Linked DNA regions of Homo sapiens: all the other regions are reported to be linked to region 2. Evidence: microRNA targets listed by miRTarBase, many of them from high-throughput screens and not tested one by one. Region 2 holds a microRNA gene; each other region holds the end of a gene's coding sequence.
The links. The annotated mature microRNA hsa-miR-381-3p reads UAUACAAGGGCAAGCUCUCUGU and lies in region 2 at 3,686-3,707, shown strand. An mRNA with a match to its seed (bases 2 to 7 or 8) in the 3' UTR can be bound and repressed. Matches are read on the target gene's strand: a 7mer-m8 pairs with bases 2 to 8, a 7mer-A1 pairs with bases 2 to 7 and ends in A, and an 8mer does both.

Region 1: miRTarBase lists ZNF181 as a target of hsa-miR-381-3p. Seed matches in the 3' UTR shown: 7mer-A1 at 2,512-2,518.
Region 3: miRTarBase lists SLC16A14 as a target of hsa-miR-381-3p. Seed matches in the 3' UTR shown: 7mer-m8 at 6,521-6,527 and 7mer-A1 at 4,774-4,780.

What each region holds. Positions count from the first base shown.
Region 1 is chr19:34,740,348-34,747,891 of GRCh38, forward strand. ZNF181 (zinc finger protein 181) reads left to right here. Exons shown (of 4, transcript NM_001029997.4): 4 at 264-5,031. The coding sequence ends at 1,750. LOC124904698 (a long non-coding RNA gene) reads right to left here. Exons shown (of 2, transcript XR_007067235.1): 2 at 6,537-7,544. Among named protein-coding and RNA genes, the nearest start is that of ZNF181, 9.9 kb to the left of the region's middle.
Region 2 is chr14:101,042,283-101,049,826 of GRCh38, forward strand. MIR381 (microRNA 381) reads left to right here and starts at 3,638; the gene lies at 3,638-3,712. MIR1185-2 (microRNA 1185-2) reads left to right here and starts at 1,916; the gene lies at 1,916-2,001. MIR381HG (MIR381 host gene) reads left to right here and starts at 2,875. Exons shown (of 3, transcript NR_104192.1): 1 at 2,875-2,902. MIR487B (microRNA 487b) reads left to right here and starts at 4,173; the gene lies at 4,173-4,256. It also overlaps MIR539, MIR889, MIR1185-1, MIR544A and MIR655. RefSeq lists enhancers at 3,483-3,983, 3,984-4,484.
Region 3 is chr2:230,030,296-230,037,750 of GRCh38, forward strand. It overlaps SLC16A14 (solute carrier family 16 member 14), which reads right to left. Exons shown (of 5, transcript NM_152527.5): 5 at 4,687-7,236. The coding sequence ends at 7,085. All of the region lies in intron 1 of LOC107985996 (a long non-coding RNA gene), which reads left to right. Among named protein-coding and RNA genes, the nearest start is that of SLC16A14, 35 kb to the right of the region's middle.

The DNA.
Region 1 (7,544 bases), not on the chromosome of region 2:
TTCCTTTTTTTCCATACTATTTCATCCATTACATATATTTTTCCCATTTCCATTATCACACTGTGTTCCCACTTCTGTGAACTCTGTATTCTCTGCTCCATTTGAGCACTGTTCAGAAATCATTGAAATATTTCAGTTGTCAGAACTATGTGTTTTCTGGGGGCTTCATTTCTAATCCAGTTCTCCTAATTCCAATTTAGAAGTTTCTTTTCAAATAGTTAAAAAAAAACAAAACAGTGCTTTGCTTTTTTGATGTATTTCAGATTGGGAATCAAGATGGGAAAACAAGGAATTATCAACAAAGAAGGATAATTATGATGAAGATTCACCCCAAACAGTAATAATAGAAAAAGTTGTAAAACAAAGTTATGAATTTTCAAATTCTAAGAAGAATTTGGAATATATAGAGAAGTTGGAAGGGAAGCATGGAAGTCAGGTAGACCATTTCAGACCAGCAATTCTCACCTCTAGAGAAAGCCCCACTGCAGACAGTGTTTACAAATACAATATATTTAGAAGCACCTTTCATTCAAAGTCTACTCTTTCTGAACCACAAAAAATTTCTGCTGAAGGGAATTCACACAAATATGATATATTAAAGAAGAACTTACCAAAAAAGTCAGTTATAAAAAATGAGAAAGTCAATGGTGGAAAGAAACTTTTGAATTCTAATAAAAGTGGGGCAGCCTTCAGCCAGGGCAAATCTCTTACCCTTCCCCAGACTTGTAATAGAGAGAAAATCTATACATGCAGTGAATGTGGGAAAGCCTTTGGCAAACAGTCAATCCTCAATCGCCACTGGAGAATTCATACAGGAGAGAAGCCCTATGAATGTCGTGAATGTGGGAAGACTTTTAGCCATGGCTCATCCCTTACACGACATCTGATAAGCCATAGTGGAGAGAAACCTTACAAATGTATTGAATGTGGGAAGGCCTTTAGCCATGTCTCATCACTTACTAACCATCAGAGCACTCACACTGGAGAGAAACCATATGAATGTATGAACTGTGGAAAGTCTTTTAGTCGTGTGTCCCATCTTATTGAACATCTAAGAATTCATACTCAAGAAAAACTCTATGAGTGTCGTATATGTGGAAAGGCCTTCATTCATAGGTCATCTCTCATTCACCATCAGAAAATCCATACTGGAGAGAAGCCTTATGAATGTAGAGAATGTGGGAAAGCTTTCTGCTGTAGCTCACACCTTACTCGACATCAAAGAATTCACACTATGGAGAAACAATATGAATGCAACAAATGTCTGAAAGTCTTTAGTAGCCTCTCATTTCTTGTTCAGCATCAGAGTATTCATACTGAAGAAAAACCCTTTGAATGTCAGAAATGCAGGAAATCCTTCAACCAGCTTGAATCACTGAATATGCATTTGAGAAATCACATTAGATTGAAACCCTACGAATGCAGTATATGTGGGAAAGCCTTTAGTCATAGGTCATCCCTGCTTCAACATCACAGAATTCATACTGGAGAGAAACCTTATGAATGTATTAAATGTGGGAAGACCTTCAGCTGTAGTTCAAACCTTACCGTACATCAGAGAATTCACACTGGAGAAAAGCCATATAAATGTAATGAGTGTGGGAAAGCTTTTAGCAAAGGCTCAAATCTTACTGCCCATCAAAGAGTACATAATGGAGAGAAACCCAATAGTGTGGTAAGTGTGGAAAAGCCTTTAGACTATATGAATCACTATACATGTGAGAAATCTTACAGAAGAGAAACTGTATGAAGCAGTGGTTATCATGGTAAATTTCCTAGATTCTCCCTTATTTAACATTAGAAAAATTTATACTGGGGAAAGTCTTATGAATGTGGTGAATATAGGAAGACCTTTTAGCAAAGATGCAGGCCAGTTTGTTTATTAGACTTTATACTGTAGAGAAATCATATGAAGACCATAAATGTGGGAAAGCCTTTGTCAGTATTAATCCCTTAATTGACATAAGTATACTCACACTAGGATAAAACCCTGTACATGTAGCAAATGTGGGAAAGACTACAGACAATAGGAATCTTTTACAAACTCCTACAGGAGAGAAGCTGTATGAATGTAGAAAATTTAGAAATTGAGGGAAGTCTTCAGTTCCAAGTATATCCCTTATTCTACAGCAGAGAACTCAAAATGGAGAGAAATCTCATTTAAGAGATGTAGCAAAGTGTTCACTAAGAGTGTTTATCTTGGTACACATCAGAAGATTAATGGTAGAACAACCTGAAGGATTTAGGAGTTATGTGTAAATCTTTGCAGTCATGCTATTTGTAAACTGGATTCTACAGGAGAGCAAATAAACATTATAATAAAATATGCATTTCTTAGAGCAGTAGCTTGCAGTTTCAGTTGAGTTCTACTTAGAAATTCTTTTTAGCTAGTGGGCATGTGAAGATATTTAGTCACCCAGAGGAGCCAGTAAGTGTTATAATATTGAAAATTAAAGCTGCAAAAGAAATAAAGTGATGTTAATAAAAGTTTTGGCATCTAATAAAATCATTTTGTATATCACAAACTCTTTCACTGTGACTATTTCCTGTAAAAAAAATTTCACTAAGATTAGCCTTAGCGTAGCCTTTAGTGGGAGACTAGCAAACCTAGAGAAAAATGACCTGCTCTTTATACTAAGAATAGCAGTATTTTGATGAGGATTATTCAGAGTCAATTTCCAGTAGGCTTAATCAAATACATTTCAAAAAAATTTACTGAGCATCACTCGTGTATTATTACACAGCGATGGGATATAGGAATCCAGTAGTTCTGAGCTTTAGTGGTGTGTCAAAGTCAGTAGGAGGGCTTGTTAAAGCACAGATTGCTAAGTCTGAATCTTAGGGTTTCTGTATGAGTTGATTTGAATTTGCATTTTTCATGCGTTCTTAGGCGACACACTGTCCAGAAAGCACATTTTGATAACCATTGTAATAATGAACAAAACAAATCTGATCTTTTTCTCGCAGGGATGTTATCTGACAAGAAAGATGGATAGCAAATAAATTTGAAATAATGGTTTACAAGTGCTATGAGGACATAACCAAGAAACAACATACTACAAGAGATCAGAGCAGGCTTAGCGAGATGTGATTTTTGAAATGAATCCTAAATGATGAACACTAATTATGTAATGAGTACTACTCATGTAGCCATGTGCATCCCTGCATGTGCCTGTGCGTGTGTGTATGCGGTGTGCTGGGTGTTAATCTAGGTAAAGCAGACAGTCGAGTTCTGTCATACTTGCTGCAGCTGGATTCCACGTTCCCATGTCTAGTTTCAGATTCTGTGGCTTTGAGGTAGTGCTGCTGGCAGCATCATTGCAGCAACCGTCATTTCTCTATCCCTGAGTCATAGTTACGGGAGTTTACCTTGAAATCACTAGCCCAGAAGTGTTCTCATTACTTTTACAGCCCACCTACCAATTTTGAAAGCACTAATTTGCAGCAATATATGTCTTGAAATAGTTAAGAGAGATTTTGTTCTCTGCACTGAACCTTGACAGATAATTATGTTTTGTAAGGAGGCAGGATGGCTTCAAATATTCTAAGTTCTAGATAAGAAATGGAACAGTCTCACTGGCCCTGTGATTAGAATCCTATCTTGTGATTAGAAAGGTAATGCAGATCAATTTGATTTGGAGTGTATGGACACTGATGCAAGTGAAGGGGTGTGATATGGATTATGCTTCAGATTTTGTTCTTTATCTCAGGTGAGAGTAGTAAGATATGTTATTTTAAAAAGGAACATTATGTTATAGTTATGATAATTCTGGTGTGGAATGAGTGATAAGGTTTCTGACTTTCAACAAAATGTATCTCCTCTGATATATGTGCTACCTTAACAGAAAGCCAAAGCACAGAGGCATATTCCAATAGCAATTTGCAAGAGACAGTAGGTTTGGAATGGGGTGGTAAACTTTTACTATTTTGCAGGGATTTTATCTTTCATTTGATTTATTTTTAATCATGAAATTTATATTGAAATTCTGTGAAACATTGAAGGATCTTTGGAAGATTTATAATTAGGGAAGGGCCAGATGTAGTGGCTAATGTCTGTACTCCCAGCACTTTGGGAGACCGAGGCAGGAGGATTGCTTGAGGCCAGGAGTTTGAGACCAGCCTGGGCAATATAGCAAAACTCATTAGTCTGTTAAAAAAAAAAATTACCCAGGTGTAGGCACACATCTGCAGTCCTAGCTATTCAGGAGGCTGAGTGGGGAGGGATTGCTTGAGTACAGGAGTTTTAAGGTCACAGTGAGCTATCATCACACCACTGCTTTCCAGCCTGGACAGCAGAACACCACCCTGTCTCCAAAGTAAATAAATACAATTAAGGAAGCATGATGTGGTATCAGACAGTTGCAAGTATGGATAGACTGGCTACCACATATATACTTATGGGATAATGAGAGTAGCTTTCTTTTCTCTCATTCTGTGTCCTTTCTCTGCTCTCCCAAGCAACTGGTACCACAGAGATGAAGTAGTCCTATAATGCCCAGATTTTGTTTCCACTACACATAGTTTAATGCTACCATGTCACTTTGTTATGAGAGGATTCATCGAAATACCTGTGCTTTGTCATTTAAAAAGCATGGGCATACACATGATAATGCTTTACGTTTCTGGATTTAAAGTGCCTTCACAATACAGAACTAGGAAAAAGAAGGCCATCTTTTTAAATGAAGATAGTTTTAAGAGAGCAATAAGAGACTATTACTTTGTTATGATAGAAGGTTGGGCTGATGTCATAATGATGTTATGATGTCACTGACATCATATTATTTCCTCAGTCATACCTATTAACCATTTCTTGAGCATCCACTATGGGCTTAATAGATAAGAAACACTCCATACCCTTTAAGAGCCCTGAGGTGTGTGTGTGTGAACAGCATTAAACTTTGGAGTCATGTTACCTGGGTTTAAATCCAAGTTGCATGAATACTGGCTTTGTGTGACCTTGGACAAACTATTTCACTGTGTCTTGCCTCAGTTTCTCCATCTGTAAAATGATAATAAAGCTATCTCACAGCATTATTATGAAGATTAAATGCATTAATTGGTGTAAAGTGTTTACAACAATCCCTGGCCTCTCAATAGCATTCAATAAGTATTAGCTATTGATTACATCATCATTGTCTTCTCATGGTTGCTTCATCATTCTGGTCTCAAAGGTCACATCTAATCACTTGTCACTCCCATGTGTTTACTGTTTAACATTTTTAGAGGAGAGCTCTTACAAAACCCCCCGATTAACTTCCAACAAATTCTTGAGTATCTGAGCCATTTTGAGGGAGGGAATGTTTCTTGCCCTAAATAATCTGAGGAGAAACAAAGAGACCAGGTAGGAGATGAGATGGGAACCTAGCAGGTCTATGGGAAGGAAGGAGGGTGCCCTACAGATTTGGAAAACGGGCCGAGTGAAGGAGGCATCAGGCTTCCACATGAAGGAAAGGGGAGGCTCTACCCAGAGACCAGAAGCCTACAGGTCTTCATCATCATCTCTGAATACAGAGTCCTGTGGGCTGGGTGCCACTGCTTTCACTCTTCCTAAATGGAGGTTAGAGCCTGTCATTGAAGGTCACTGATGCCTGGAAAGTCAAACAGTTTCCTTGTTAGCCTTGGGCCAGTCAGATGTGATTAGAGCTCAGTTGTTGGTAAACATCTAGAAAGAAGCAAGGCACATATCACTGAGCACTTCCTGGGAACTTATTTTTTTGCTGCTGAGGGGGAGTCAGTCTTTAAACAAATTGCAATTGTGTTAGAGAAAAAAGCTTTATATGCAAAAGTAATTGATGCAAGATACAAGACAATGACAAGGCCATATGGCCCAAGAGGTGCAGAGTGTAAGCACTCTGGCATCAAAGATAAATAGGGAAAAACTATAATCATAATACAATACTGTTAATAGCAGCAGCAACTGGGCCTTGTGTTTGCACTGTGTGCTGCATTGAGACAATTAAATGTTCTATGCTCTGGATCCAAATTCCTAGGTGTGAATTCAGCCTATTGGGACTGTCGCTTGCTTACTCTATAAACTTGGTGAAGTCACTTCATTTCCCAATTTTTCCATCAAAACAAAAACAATTCCCATCTTACCAGCTGGTTGTAAGAATTAAAAGATTTATAAAGCAAGCAACAAAGTGCCTCTGCATGGAAGTTTGTTGCCGTGTTTTTCCTGCTTTTAATAATCTTCCCACATACTGTAAGGTAAATGCCATAATCATCTTCATGCTAGTGACCTGAGTCTCTCTCAGAGTCACACATCTTAGGAATATAGGCTACATTTGAACATTCAGTAAAAGACCACACAATATTGCCCTCCTAGGACAGATCTCAGAAGACTGGGGTTTCTCTTGGCAACCATACAGGCTCTCTTGGCCTCCCTGAACAAAAAAATGTCTCCTTTGGCCATGCTGTTCCTTCTGCCTAGAATGTGTCCCATACCCCATTTATTACCACGCTTACCTGCCGAGGGAGTCCTGCCTACCTTGCAAAGCTCACTAGGTGTGTCAAAGATGAACAAAGCTGGACATTTATGACAGTGGGGAGAACGGACTTTAATTGGTAATAACTATTGCAATGGGGAAAGGAATTTGGCATGAACTGAACCCAGCTTTGATTTGTACAGAGGTGAATGAGTATGTTAAAGGAAGGGTGAGGAAATAGGGAGGGGGTGGAGAAGAGGGGCTCAGTAGAGTCAGAAAAGTGAAAAATTACAAAACACAGGAAGGGAGGGGGCTGGTCTATGTGCAGTCTATCTGGGTTTGCTACTGGCACTTGAATTAGGATCCTATCCTCCCACAGAGACTGTGAGACAGGGGTCTTATCTTCAGGTGTTGGCTGGAAGAAATTCTTTGGACAGCCTTGAGTTTTTCAGGCCAGCACTTTAAAAGTTATTAGAAAGTGTTAGTGTTGTTCAAGTCTTAATAGGCAAAAGTTGACAGGCCTATTAAAGAAGGCTCAGAGGGGCCTAGCTAGAGTTTGGTGAAAGAAAGAGAAATCTTTGTCAGGTATCACCTCAGGCTTCCCCAGCCCACTGAGGAGGAATGGTGGTGAAGAAGAAGAAAGAACAAAGGCTCAAGGGCTCAACATACAGGATGTGAGTTTCCGCCAAGAGTTGTGTGACCCTGAGAAGATAACTTAAGTTTTCCAAACCTCAGGTTCCTTTTCTGTAAAGCAGGAATAATAGAACCTAACTCTGAGGAAATTGGGATTAAATGAAGTGCTACATAACAAGTTACCCTCAGAACTCAATAAATGTAGTTATTATTGTTACTTAGCCTCTTTGCTTCCACACCACCCTGGAAAACCGAACCAAGTCCTGATCTCTACTTTTGTAAGTGTGCCACATTCTCTGCACAAAGATTCCAGAAGATGAGAAATACTTAATCTAGAGCTAGCAAGGCCAAAGGGAAAAAAAAAAAAGACTCTCCTAGTAGGTGACATTGACATTGGTGCAGAACAGGGAAGGATGCAAAGGAGGAGAGGAGAGGGAGAGGCACTGCAGAGATCTGGACTCAGTGTCCCAGGCAGAGAGAAACACT
Region 2 (7,544 bases):
CACCCAGTGTGGCTACAGGACTTGCTGCTGGGACCTCTAAGCCCCACTGCTCTCTTAGTCCATTGGTGTCCTTTAGGGATTCTTGCCAATGGAAAGACCCTTGGATTCCTGGTGTTAGCATGTGTTTATTCAGAGAGAGTTGGCCCATGAGAATCTCATTTTCCTTTGACGAATCTTGCCCTAGATGAATACTTCTGAGTAACAACTAACTGCTCAGATGGCTTTCTGAATACAATGCCAAATTCAGGAGAAGGGACACTTGTCATAGTGCTGCTTTGTGATTTGCAAACGGAGTGCGTTGGATTTCTGTTTCTCTTTTTTCTTTAATGATGCATGTGACTGCATCTTCTAACCTCCCTTAGCCAGTGTTCACCAGGAGGGCTTCCTGGAGGCAGTGGCTTTGGGCAGAGGCAGAGGTTCTTCTCCCAGGGTGTTTTTGCAGGCCCTAAAGGGATTTCAGCCATTTTACATTTACATTATTTCAAATGGTACAGGATTGCCTGTCTTTTGGTAACCAATCCTGTCGTGAAGAGATGCTGGGAAGTAAAGTCAACTGTATGGCAGGCCCCAGCTCCAGGGCCAGCCAGATGAGGCTTGTCACCTGGCCCCTCCCCCTTGGTCTCAGGCCTCGCAGGAGGAGATGTCCACTCCGGCGAAGACCCGGCATAGTCCTCACCTGCTCTTTGAGCCACTCTTTGGTACTTGAAGAGAGGATACCCTTTGTATGTTCACTTGATTAATGGCGAATATACAGGGGGAGACTCTTATTTGCGTATCAAACTCTGTCGAGGAAGACGCTCAGACCCTGCTGTCTCCAGGACAAAGCCTCGGATGTCAGCCCCTCTCAGGTACGGCTTGGCTTCCCTGTCTGGGAACGTGAGCTTGGCTGTGATCCTAGCCCTTGGGTTCTGCCTTCGCTCTCTGTGCTGGTTCTTCCTGTGGACTCCCTGGAGGCAGTGGGAGAGGAGGGTCCTTTTTGTGTGCACTGAGTTTAATGGTGGTTTGCTTTTTTTAAGGATAAATCACATGGATCTGCCTCTTCTCCATACCAAGTCATACCCAGAGGGCTTCCTGCGTCCAGCACTAACCTCGCACCTCTCCGGACACACGAATGGGTGGTGGATGGTGGAGCGCAGAGCTGATGCTGCTTCTCACCTGCTACTCCCCTGACCTGCCACTCCCTGGTGGTCTCCATCCTTGAGAGAGTGTCAGCCTTGAGGGAAGCACATGGATGTCAGGTTGTTCTAAGGCAAGTTACTGGTGGAGCTCCCTGAGCCTGCCTGTGCCCTCTGGGACTGTCGCTGGACTCCAATGGCCAGTCCTCGGAGCACATTGTCCAGTGATTGCACCTGAGTGTGCCTTGGGCAGGTGTGTCTGGTCTTCAGGACTCCTTTGTCGCTAGAGTCTGACGCTGGGGCCCTCTTTTTGTTTGTTTCGAGGTAGGTACAGGTGACACATTCTTGGATCTGGTCATCTCTAGGACAACCAGCCTCAGAGGAGAGACATTGTCTCAGCGCTCTCCAGCTCTGAGAATGCCTGCAGATGCCTTCTTCTCTGATAACTCCATGTCTTGCCGGGCTGAGCCCTCACACCCTGTGCCCCTTTGGAGAAAGGTGATGGTTCCATTGTCCATGTAGCTTGTGGGTATTTGAAGCAGGTTCACCCATGCATGCTGAGCACACTGATAGTCATGCCTACCTGTTCCCTTGTTTAGAAGCCAGTCTCGCCTGCAGGGAGTCCTGGATGTGCCACCTTTCGGGGCCAGGCCACAATGTGCAAGGTGCAGGCCCAGCTCCAGGGTCAGCCAGATGAGGCTTGTCACCGGGCCCCTCCCCCTTGGTCTCAGGCCTCGCAGGAGGAGATGTCCACTCCGGCAAAGACCCGGCATGGTCCTCACCTGCTCTTTGAGCCACCCTTTGGTACTTAAAGAGAGGATACCCTTTGTATGTTCACTTGATTAATGGCGAATATACAGGGGGAGACTCTCATTTGCGTATCAAACTGTCGGAGAAGACACTCATACCCTGCTTGTCTCCAGGACAAAGCCTCGGATGTCAGCCCCTCTCAGGTATGGCCTGGCTTCCATGTCCGGGAACGTGAGGTTGGCTGTGACGCTGCCCCTGGGTTCTGCCTTCGCCCTCTATGCTGGTTCTTCCTGTGGACTCCCTGGAAGCAGTGGGAGAGGAGGGACCTTTTTGTGTGCTCCAAGTTTAATGGTGGTTTGCTTTTTTAAGGATAAATCACACATTGATCTGCCTCTTCTTGGTACCAAGTCATACACAGAAGGCTTCCTGTTCCCAGCATCAGCCTTAGAAGGGGGACCTGGATGTTGGATCATTTCAAGGGGAACACAGACAGCAGTGATGGTGGACCACGGAGCACTGGCTCTGTCTATGCTGTTTTCGAGCCTGGTAGGCCAGCCCCAGGAGGGCTTCCTGGAGGTGGTATTGACCTTGGGGAAGGGGCTGAGGTGTGCTCATCAGCGCTTTTTTTTTTTGATGCTTGGGTGTTCATGATCCAGCTCGCAGTCCCCAGGCTGAATCTGTAAGAATGGTTTGCTTCTATTTGTCATTTGTGATTGCCCATGAAGGCAGCGCTGGGGATGAGCCGTGGGAGCTGTCAGCCCCGCACCAGGTGCGTGCATGTGGGAGGTCAGAGGGCGCCTGCTTCTGCCTCGATGTCTGTGCCCCGTCTCTGACTGCTGGCTTTCTGCTCACACCTAGGATGGCTGCCTGAGAATGGGACTCTTGTTCTGTGTTTGTGGAGACACTCCTTGGGCCGTGTGACTGCCGGCTTTTTACACCCCGACTGCCATGGGGGTCATCTGGACCCGAAGCCAGCTTCAGGAAGGACATTCGCAGCATCCTCAGCCCAAGGAAAGCGAACGTCCAGCTGAAGAGAGGTGAGCACCACGCCTGGGTAATGAGTCACATAACCTGCCACCTGGACCAGGCGGCTCCCGCTCCTCTCCCCTTCTTGAAGGAGAGACCACTGTGGGGAATGGGCTGTGGGTCTGCTTCCTCAGTTACTTGGGGGTACGTGGGGTTTACTACTGTTGACCCTGTGCTCTTTCTTAGCATGGCTTCATGGCCACGATGCCAGCCTCTGGCAGGGGTGGGGCAAGGGCTGGCATGGAGAATGACACTGGTGTCAACGGCTCTGTGAGATGGATGAAGGGATGGTGACCACAGGGCCTTTGCTTTGTCTAAGGTGTAAATTCATCCAGTGCCTGGGACCTCGGTGCTGAGTGCATCCTTAGGAAAACTTCCTGGAGAGGTGCCCACACTGGGAAGGAGATGGTGGTCCCACCCCAGGGAATTCCTATAGAAAGTGAGAAGCTGAGCTCTGCGTGTGCCCAGGAAGGCCCGTGGGGTGGATCTCCTTTTCAGGAACAAGTTCTAATCTGGAGTGATGCCTGGAAAAGAGGCTGATTCTGGTGAAGGGGCACTGGCGTCTGCCCCTTCCTGGCCCCTTTGGGATGGAGAGCTGACCTATGGGCACACAGCTGGCAGGTGGTGTTTGCCACCTGGTCTGCTGATCCCGCATCTCCCACCCCCTCCCCCGCCAGGATGAACCCCGGGAGAGGAGGCCGGCCCCGTGAATGATAGTGAGGAACCTGCCCAGTGCTATTGTTTGGTACTTAAAGCGAGGTTGCCCTTTGTATATTCGGTTTATTGACATGGAATATACAAGGGCAAGCTCTCTGTGAGTATCAAACCTTGTCTTGGACCCAGTCCACACTCAGCAAGGGATGCGGTATGTGTGTGCATGACCGTGTGTATCCGTTTTGTGTGTGGCAAATCGTTCACGGGTCCCCACTTCACAGAGAGGACTTCACGGGCACCTGGATGACTTTAGGGAAGGCAGTGGCCTCTGGGACATCCCCTCTCCTGGTGCAGTGTGGGCGGGGCCAAAAGCATGCACGATGTGTGTGGTCTGGGTCCCTGCTTCCTGAGCGGGAAGTCATCAGCCCGGGCCGATGGCTGGGGTGGCGCTCGTGTGGGGTAGTGGCTTTGTGGTCCCTGCTGTTACTCGGTCCGTGAGTGTGCATGTTCTGCTTGGGGTATGTGACCCGGTCCACTAACCCTCAGCATCTAATTCATCCCCAGGACCGCGCCTTGAAGACGTACCAAGTCCACCCAAGGCAGTGGCTTTCTTTTCCGTGCTAACCTTTGGTACTTGGAGAGTGGTTATCCCTGTCCTGTTCGTTTTGCTCATGTCGAATCGTACAGGGTCATCCACTTTTTCAGTATCAAGAGCGCAGACTCTGGAGCTCGATTTCCTGTGTTTGGATCCCACCTCTGACATTTACTAACCGTCCAACCTTGGGCAAGGATCTCATCGTGCTGTGCCCATTGTCTCACATGTCAAAGGGGAATCACATTGGCGTCCATTTCTTGGGGCTGCTGGGGCTGAACGAGTTAAGACTTGTACACGGCTCAGAGCAGAGCCCCGTGGTCGGCACTTCGTAGGTGGTAGCCAGGACCCTTGTGTGCTGTGAAACTATCATTGGTGGTGGTGGTGGTGGTGGTGGTGGTGGTTTTATGACTAAAATCTCTCCATGGGTTTTTGGAACAGTGTCAAAACATGGAAGTCAAGTCCTTCATCGGGTATGGAATGGACTAGGAAGCCCAGAGCATACACGGTGTTTACAATGGGGGCTAGTGATGCTCTTGATGCTTGGCAGCTAAGCCATTCACACAGTGGCTTTTGATACAGAATGCCACATGCAGTGGGGGTCAGCAGGGGTGCCGAGAACATTTGCTCCACTTAAGAGAGACAGTCCCTGGGTTCTTGACCTCGGCCACTATCTACGCTTTGAAGGAGTCTTGAGCGAGGATGCCAAGCTGAGTGAGGATTCTATGGCATCTTGCTTCCCTGGTGCTTAAAGAGAGGTCAAACTTGGTGCATGCATTGTGCATGCCTGTGTGTGCGTGGTGTGTGTGCATGAGCGAGTGTGTGACTGGGTTTGCCACGAAGCAGTCACCATCTAACCTTGAGCCAAAGACCTGGAGGTGGTGGTCCGTGCTGCTGTTTCATACTTGAGGAGAAATTATCCTTGGTGTGTTCGCTTTATTTATGATGAATCATACAAGGACAATTTCTTTTTGAGTATCAAATCTTGCCTCGGCAGACTTCCTGGACGCCATGACAAGTTCTGTAAAGGGATGCACGCATCAGCCCTTCCCAGGGGCTCACGCCTGGGTGGGGATGAGGGCGCATGCAGTTGGTTTGTGGTGGGGACACTTGTGCCCTAACCTCAGAACCCTGGAGGCGGGGCCACGCTTGGCAGGGGGCCACGGGACTCCTTGGTGCTATCAGGGATTTGCATTGGCCATGGGTGTGTGTTGTGGGTGACGCAGCATTCAAGCTACTTATCAAATCCTGCTTCTTGGAGGCACTTCTTGGACATGAAGCAAACCTTAGGGACCGATCATTGGGGCCAGACCCCCTTCCCCTGCCCAAGAGTGTGACTGACCCCCAGGCATGGGCTTGACTCTCAATGTGTGAAGCTGACCTGCTAATCCTCATTGTTTGGACTACCTGAGAAGAACTTTCTGGAAGAGACACCAACTTTGGAGAAGATGCCCAGCTCTTCTTGATGGCACAGTTCTTTGGTGCTTAAAGAATGGCTGTCCGTAGTATGGTCTCTATATTTATGATGATTAATATCGGACAACCATTGTTTTAGTATCCAAATTTGCTTCAGAAGTTTTTGAAAGCACAGTGCTGACTTCAGTGAGGGGACATTGGTGCCTGCCCCACCATGGAGTGTGACTGTGTTGATGATTTATAATGATGAATCCAGTGATCTCAGAATGCAAGCCACCAGTGTGATTTCCTTGGACAAATGCTAGCTTTGGGGTGGAGATGCCATTTAGGGGCTTGGTGCCATATCTTTTTATTGGAAGATGTTCACAATTATTTCATCTCTCTTTCTCTTCTTGTTATTAAATCTTAGCCACGAGGAATTCCTTGGAGAGATGCCGGGGTCAAGCCTCTCTCTAGGTAGATGGTGGACCGGGGAACCTGGGTCCAGCCTCTCCTATCTGTAGCCTTCATTCTGAGTATGAAACACTTCCTGTAGGGAATGCAAACATTAGTAAAAACTCCGTACATTTCCTGTTACTATTACTACTTTTTGGCAGCTCCTAAGCAGCTGCCTGTTGGGTATTTGGATTATTCTTGGTGGACGTGGCATGGCTTCGTGCCTTCCTTGGGAACCACCCCATCTTAGACAGACTCTCATGGAATAAGACGTTGTGGTCGACAGCACCTCTGGGGTGTGTGTGTGTGTGTGTGTGTGTTTGTGTGCGTGTGCATATGAATAGTTGGCTAGAGTAGTGTTTCTCAAACTTTAAAAATGCTCCTAAGATTTTCATCACCTAGGGATCTTGTTAAAAAGCAGATTCTGATTCAGGGACCAAGATTCTGCATTTTTAGCAAGTTCTCAAGTGATGCTAATACCGCCGGTCTGTGGACAACACTCACAGTGGTTTGGGGCTGGAGACCAGGTGCTTTCCCTGTGATATGTGTCGCCTGTCTCCCCACATGCCATATACCGTCCATCGTGGGAGAACGGCCCAGAATCAACGTGCCATGTTTTGGTTTGTGAACAAGGGTTCACTTTCACATGCGTAAATAGCATGAGATTACTTTTCTTTAAAATCAAATCATGCCTCAAAGGGCTTCCCAGATACAAGACCTGCTTCAGGGAGGGGCCGCCGGTGTCAAGCTGCTGCAAGATTGTCGGGTGCAGGTCAACGGCACGCTTATTCATTATTGATGTGCTGGGCCCTGGAATTCTGTGACCCTCCGTTTCCAAGCAGTCATCGGGAGGAAATTCCAGGAACTGAGACCATCTCTGCGGTAGGGACCCTGTCTTCAGGGATCAGTGACACCCCATTTTATCGGAAACAGAATTCTTCATGATGGCTTTGCTTATCTCTGACATGCATTCTGCTGGTTCTCGTCATCAAATCCCGTCTTTCAGGAATCCGTGGAGGAAGCTTTCATATATTTTTAATGGAACCTGCCTTAGAAGTCTTTCTGAGCATGGTTCCAATGTCAGGGTTTTGACTTTGGTGCCAGGGCTGCCTGGGCCCTGAGACTGAGGTACGGGAATGGAAGGTCAATGCCAGTACGTGTGCTTTCTTTGCAGGATGTGAACACCTCCCTGCCCCAACCCTGGGATTCAGCTCATCCCAAGAAGAATCTTCTGGAAGCAAAGACAACGGTGGGGAAGAGGCCATGGTTTTCGTTTCAGAACTATGCAAGGATATTTGAGGAGAGGTTATCCGTGTTATGTTCGCTTCATTCATCATGAATAATACATGGTTAACCTCTTTTTGAATATCAGACTCTGCCTCGGAGGGCCGCCCCCACAGGAGACGTGAGAGTGTGTGCCTTGTGTGAGCTGAGAGCCCCTGCCCCGGCTCCGTGCTGCGTGAGGGAAGCTTCCTGGAAGTGAGGCTGGTGGAGGGAAGAGCCCTGGGTTGCTTTGCTGTGTTTGCTGTGAATGCGATGTGTTTTTGCGAGTTATG
Region 3 (7,455 bases), not on the chromosome of region 2:
GGACATATTTACTAACATCCAGATATATTTCGTTTCTCTGAAATAAGAAGCCAAAAGTATGTAAGATTAAACTAATATTTAGTACTGAATGTCATAGCATTATATCTTATTCGGAAATGACCTACATATTTAATGAATATTTATCATGTAATTTGCCTTAGCAAAACTCTAAGGATATAGAAACCTTTTATTTTGTTTTATTTTTTGAGAAGGAGTCTCACTCTGTCACCCAGGCTGGAGGGCAGTGGTATGATCTCAGCTCACCGCAACCTCTGCTTCCTGAGTTCAAGCAACTCTCCTGCCTCAGCCTCCCAAGTAAACTGGGATTATAGGCATGTACCACTACACCCAGCCAATTTTTGTATTTTTACTAGAGACGGGGTTTTGCCATGTTGGCCAGGCTGGTCTCGAACTCCTGACCTTAAGTGATCTGCCTGCCTTGGCATCCCAATGTGCTGGGATTACAGCGTGAGCCACTGGGCCCAGCCTAGAAACCTCTTAAAGTAAATATATTATAAAACATAATTATTATGTCAATTTATAAACTTTTTTCCTATTTACATTTATTTTAATTATTCTTTTTTTTTTTTTGAGACGGAGTCACACTCTGTCGCCCAGGCTGGAGTCAGTGGTGCGATCTCGGCTCACTGCAACCTCTACCTCCTGGGTTCAAGCTATTCTCCTGCCTCAGCCTCCCGAGTAGCTGGGACTACAGGTGCACACCACCATGCCTGGCTAATTTTTGTAATTTTAGTAGAGATGGGGTTTCGCCATATTGGCCAGGCTGGTCTCGAACTCCTGACCTCAGGTGATCTGCCCACCTCGGCCTCCCAAAGTGCTGGGATTACAGGCATGAGCCACCGTGCCCAGCCTTATTCTTTCTTAACAACTATGTTTGGAAAAATTTCATGAGCCGTTAGACAAATCTAGCCATCATCTCAACTTAAATTTTGTATTAACCATTTTGCTATTAATATTATCATATGTTATCTAAGTATCATAAAAGCAATCACCTTAACATTAAATACATGCATATTTTGCTGATAAGTCAAAAGACATTTGTTTTTATTAAACCAACTATATTAAACTACTCATATTTACCAAAAGATTTACTCAAGTCACAAGAACTTGAAAAATATTTGGGCTTATTTATTTAATTTTTGATTACTCATTTATTGTTACGGCAATTTGGTACCATGTAGACAATATCCAAACACAAGTATAGACATATGTGTATATGTAGACACAACATATAACTAAAACACATAAACATGTATGCATCTGAAAGTTGAAAAGATCAAGGAATTCAATATAAAAGAAAGTAGAGCTAGGTCGGGCATAGTGGCTCATGCCTGTAATCCCAGCATTTTGGGAGGCCGAGGCAGGAGGGTCACTTGAGGTCAGGAGTTTGAGACCATCCTGGCCAACATGGTGAAACCCCATGTCTACTAAAAATATAAAAATTAGCCTGGCGTGGTGGCATGTGCCTGTAGTCCCAGTTCCCCAGGAGGCTGAGGCAGGAGAATTGATTGAACCCAGGAGGCAGAGGTTGCACTGAGCCAAGATCATGCCACTGCACTCCAGCCTGGGTGACAGAGTGAGACTGTCTCAAAAAAAACAACAAAAAAAGAGTAGCACTTTAGACTGAGAGGAGCCTGTCCACCCACGATTCTTGGGGCTCCGTGAGGAAAAACAGAGGTACCCTACCCAAAAAGGAGGAGTCTGTGATGTCCTTTCTGTGTTCCTGAAGGGTCCTTGGGCTGCTAGAAGTTTTCTTGGTGTCAAAAGTGGCAAGAGGAAGAAGAGACAGTAGTAAATGGAAGAACAAGTCCTAGAGTAGCCACTTTCAGAAGCTCTTGTTTTCCAAATGGCCAGTAAGGTTTTACATTATCCTTGGCAAAAATCATGTCAATGAGAGGAGAAACAGAGGGAGCACATATAGTTAGCAGGAGTTTCGCAAGAAATTCAGTTGACTGAGAAGCTGTTACAGAGAGAACAGAGGACTCAAATAAATGTATGTATACATATATAGCCTAAATATTGGTTTTAATTAAATGTACTTTCGACTATACAGCTCTTAAAATATTTTTATCAGGTTTTAGCTGGGTTAATAGCAAACATTCCTGTTTCCTGGTTTTTTCTTTCTGAAATTTACACCAATGGTGGGGTGTATTTGTTTATTAGAGGTCTAGAGGAATCACTATTTAAAGCTGTTTGTGTCTGAAACCCAAGTTTCAGAACTGTAACACTAGCACTTGTAGTCTGTATCTTTCATTTGACAAGTGGTCATTCCTAGTGATAGTTCTTTAATTGTTTCATTGAACTTTGCTACTTCTTATTTTTTTTGAGACAGAGTCTCACTCTGTCACTCAGGCAGGAGTGCAGTGATGTGATCCCGGCTCCTGAACTGCAACTTTGAACTCCTGGGCTCAGGTAGTTCTCCCACCTCAGCCTCCAAAGTAGCTGGGACTGCAGGTGCACACCACAACACCCAGCTAACTTTTTAAACTTTTTTGTAGAGACAGGGTCTCACTATGTTACCTAGGCTGGTCTCAAACTCCTGGGCTCAAGCCTCAGCCTCCCAAAGTGCTGACATTACAGGCGTGAGTCACCACACCCAGCCCTACTTCTTTCATATTATTAATTACACCTTTTTTTGTTTGTTTTTGATATGGAGTCTTGCTCTGTCGCCCAGGCTGGAGTGCAGTGGCATGATCTCGACTCACTGCAGCCTCTGCCTGCTGGGTTCCAGCAATTCTCCTGCCTCAGCCTCCCAGGTAGCTGGGATTACAGGCACATGCCACCACACCTGGCTAATGGTTGTATTTTTAGTAGAGATGGGGTTTCACCATGTTGACCAAGCTGGTCTCGAACTCCTGACTTCAGGTGATCCAGCCACCTTGGCCTCCCAAAGTGCCGGGATTACAGGCGTGAGCCACCATGGCAGGCTCTAGCTTCATTTAAACACGTCAGGAGTCATTTCCCTTGGCTTTGTTATCACTCTTCCTGCACTGGAGTAGTAGGTTACTTATGCATGCAGGCTGCTTGAGGGCAGGGGTTTTGCATTAGCCTGCCTTGCTCCTATAGAAGCCCAGTCCACATTTGTTGATTGGAAAAGGACCGAGTAAAAGATTATATACTGTGAAGTCTTTATAGATAGTAATTGACCAGAATGCTGTATAAAAGGAAATAACGAGAGAGGTTCAGGACAAGTATTTGAAATTCACTGGAATATTTTGCCCTTAAATATGTTGAGACCGGGTGTGCGATTTTAATATGCATAAGAATCTACTGAGAAGCTTATCTAAAAAGGGAGATTTACTGGTCCCATTCTCAATTCTCTAGGTTTTAAGTAGGCCCAAGTATCTGCATTCAAAATAATTTTGGATACAAGTTTTAAATTGAAAAAGCATTATGTACATAAGGAAAAAAAAATCAGACCTACCTTAGTCCCCAGATTTTCTTCCCTGGAGCCAACAACTATTAATGTTTTCTTATGTTTCCTTATGTTTCTTCCCAGCAATTGTCAATTCATGTCTAAGCCTATTATATATATGAATGACTTTTTTTTTGTAATGAAAACATATAATTGGGGGCATATTAAACATATTGCTTTATCTTGCTTTTTTTTTTTTCTTTTTTTCTTGAGACAGAGTCTTGCTCTGTCACCCAGGCTGGAGTGCAATGGCACAACCCAACTCCTGGGTTCAAATGACTCTTCTGCCTCAGCCTCCTGAGTAGCTGGGATTACAGGTGCCCACCACCACGCCCAGCTAATTTTTGTATTTTTAGTAGAGATGGGGTTTCGCCATATTGCCCAGGCTGGTCTCAAACTCCTCAGCTCAAAGTGATCCATCCGCCTTGGCCTCCCAAAGTGCTGGGATTACAGGCATGAACCACCACGCCCAGCCTATCTTGCTTTTTTTTTTTTTTTTTTTTTTTAAAAGCACTATATCTTCAGGCTGTTTCCTAATTCTACATATAGATCTGCCTTTTTTGTTTAATAATTCTATAAATTCCGCTGTATTATTGTCTATACTTTAAAATACTTTATACTGTATTTTAACAGTTGTACTATACTTTAACGGTTATCTATTGGTAGACATTTAAATTCTTTCCAGTCTTTTTTTTTTAATTTTTTTTATTTGAGAAGGAGTCTTGCTGTGTCGCCAGGCTGGAGTGCAGGGGCGCGATCTCAGCTCAGTGCAACCTCCACCTCCCGGGTTCAAGCGATTCCCTTACCTCAGCCTCTCAAGTAGCTGGGACTACAGCCGCCCGCCACCACACCAGGCTAATTTTTTGTATTTTAGTAGAGACGGGGTTTCACCATGTTGGCCAGGATGGTCTCAATCTCCTGACCTCGTGAACCGCCTGCACCCGGCCCAGTCTTTTATATAACAAACCATAAACAAAAAATCCTTACATATTAGTCTGTGTTCACATGTAGAAAATGATGTTAGAAATACAATTGCTGGATTCAAAGATGTGTGCATTTTAAATTTAATACTTAGACTCAGCACTTTTCATAATCATTCTAGGTGATTCTGTCCATGTGGTTTGTGAATATACCTAGAGAAATAGTTTTTCAGGGGAAAGAATGAAACAAATAATTACCACCTACATTTTAGGATTATTCTCTTCGAGGCCAACAAAATAGAAATTTTATACAAAAACTCACTGACCGTCTTCAAAGAGGACAACATTTATTTAGTTGTATGTAAATAAAAATTACTTGGATACATGAGGGGAAAACGATAAAGCACATGATATAAATATACAATTAACCCTTTATAATATCTTCAAACAACGGCAAATAACATAAACAGGAAATATTTGCAGTAATTCTTTACAGTATTCTCTTTTACTCTGTTGTCAACATGAATACTGCAAGCAGGTCTTTATTTTTTTTGACAATGGGAACTTCCACTCATTCGGTAGAAGTCACCACTTTCAAAACATAGTAAGTCAACACACAACTGTACAAACTGAACGTGAGCAAGTCTAACTTAGATGTAATTAGAGTTGAGTCATTGGATAAAAAGTTCATATTGATGATACACAACCAGCAGTGCAAGCATTCAAATACATTGGCTATAGCACCATTTAAAATATTTAACACTGCCTCTTGTTAGTTTGATGTTGTCGGAAAATGAAAGTAATGAAGCAATGTAGTTTTTAAAACATACAACATGTGTTTCAATCTAATCATCCTAATTCTATGGTAAATTACACAGAGAGAGATAGAGGAGGGAGCATTGCCTCAGCTTTAAGATTATCTTTATCAAAATAGAGAGCTGGATTCTTTAACAGCAGCCAAAGCTGTAATGATAACACATAGGTTGTTGTGTTGAACCAAATGGAGTATGACATGCAATCTATTGTCTATAATAATTTACAGGCAATTCCCGAGTCATTGGAGGTAATATTAAGTATATATATTAACCATGCTTTTGTCTCTCCTTTCCATTAGCTGCCTTTTATTATTTTGGTGGTCCTTTCATTACACAACCACTCCCACTATACATTAGAGCAGGAAATAATGGAGATGGAACAAAAAGAGAACTTGTCCATTGAATCACTTGTTAACAGCTCAGAAGGGCATGGTTGAGTATAACTGAAACTGCTGGCTAAAATTACGCTTGGGGTGGCATTGTTTGATTCCAATTCCTAGTAGCATTCCTGCGTCTAATTGTGAAGGATAATTGAGAATGGGCTGTATTCACTTTAGGTAAATTTGACCTAAGACACTGGCAATGATATTCAAGGATTTGTGTGTGTGTGATGATCAAATTGTGAGTAGAAATTTAAATAGTCTTAAACTATCTGTAAACAAGTAAGGCAGCCAGAAATTTCAAATGATCTGGGAAGAACATTCTGCAGTCTGAAAAACGTTTGGCTTAGAAAAATAGACATCTCAGATAAAGAAAGGGCATTATTAGATGTCATGGATCACAGTCATCTTCTGTATGAAATCAATCAAGAGAACTATTTTTAAAACTGTGCCACGCTCAGGCAAATGAATGGTCTATATAACAACACGAGAGTCTAGAGATGGGCTATTTGTTATCACTACTCCAGTGTCAGATGTGGCACAGACATCTACACTAATGGCATTCCATTTATTATCCTCACAAATTGATAGTGTTATACTTTGGATTAGCAACATTCCTTGGAGATGATTTAACTATTAACTTTATTTGTCAGTTAGCAATTAGTTCTATATTATATTTTTGGGCAGAAGAAACTCAGAAAAAAATATTACAGGCCCCACCTCATGCTTATATCATCTAAGAGGCCAATGATACGAATAAAAGTGCTTGAATTGTAGCCCTTGATTTAATGTTGTGCGTACAAATACGGCTTCTGCTAAGGAAATCATTACTGTTATTTCTTTGTTAAGGTTTTGTCTCAAGATTCCATTTATAACTGGATAGCACTGAATTAGGATTAATGGCAAGTGCCTTCTTTTAGAGGAGGATTTAGGAGTCACAATCCCTAGCTGCAGAATTCCCTCATAAAAATACAAGCCGTGTTTCTTTAATTGCACTAAATTGTATTACCTGTGGAATTAGAGCTTGCCTTTGTTTGATGCTAGTAGATCAATAGCTCCCTGTAATAATTAATTTCTGAAATCTAGTCATATTCTTGTGCTTGAAACCCATTTATCTGTAAGCTTTCTGGAAGCACACAGATACTTCAGTTTTGTCTTACAAAGAAGTGGTTGAGTTGAAAAGCTTTTATTCCCTGTTTTTGTTTTTAAAAGCTGTATTTAAAACCCTAGTCCCAGTAGATGACAAGAGAATGGTTTTTATAAGGGCATTTCTACCAATTACTTACTAGGCTGTCTTTGAACAACACTGTCATCTCTAGAATGTATGTAGTCCTTAAGATCTTCCAGCATTACATCTCCCCAAACAGAGAGGCAGTGCTGCTTACAAATGAGGCTGTGACAATGGCATTTACAAATGACAGTGCCAGTTACCGTACAAAATGCTTTCCCACGTCCTGTCATAGGTGCCTCACAGCAACCATGCGAGGTAGGCATGAGTATTACAATGAAACCTACACGGAACATTACATGATACTAAACATGTGCACCATCCATGTATTTTCTTCTGGATTGTTCTATAATTCGAATGCACGGCTGAATAAGTAAAAAGAGTATTCCTATCATGTAAAGCAAACCACATATGTAGAAGGAAAAATCATATTTTTGCGTGATGTCATAGATCCACCCTACAAAACAAAAAAGAATATATTCAGTGTCATGGAGTTGATACAATGAAAGTGAAGAACATGAAGCAGGCATTTATTGCTGCTGTACATGTTTCTACAAGAATTTATATGTCATTTCATACCAATAAAATGTTTCATTTATCCATTTCTTTTCCTTTTTTTTTTTGTTTTTTATATTTTTTGGTTCTCATTTAGCCATTTTAAAGGGTGTGCTGTACA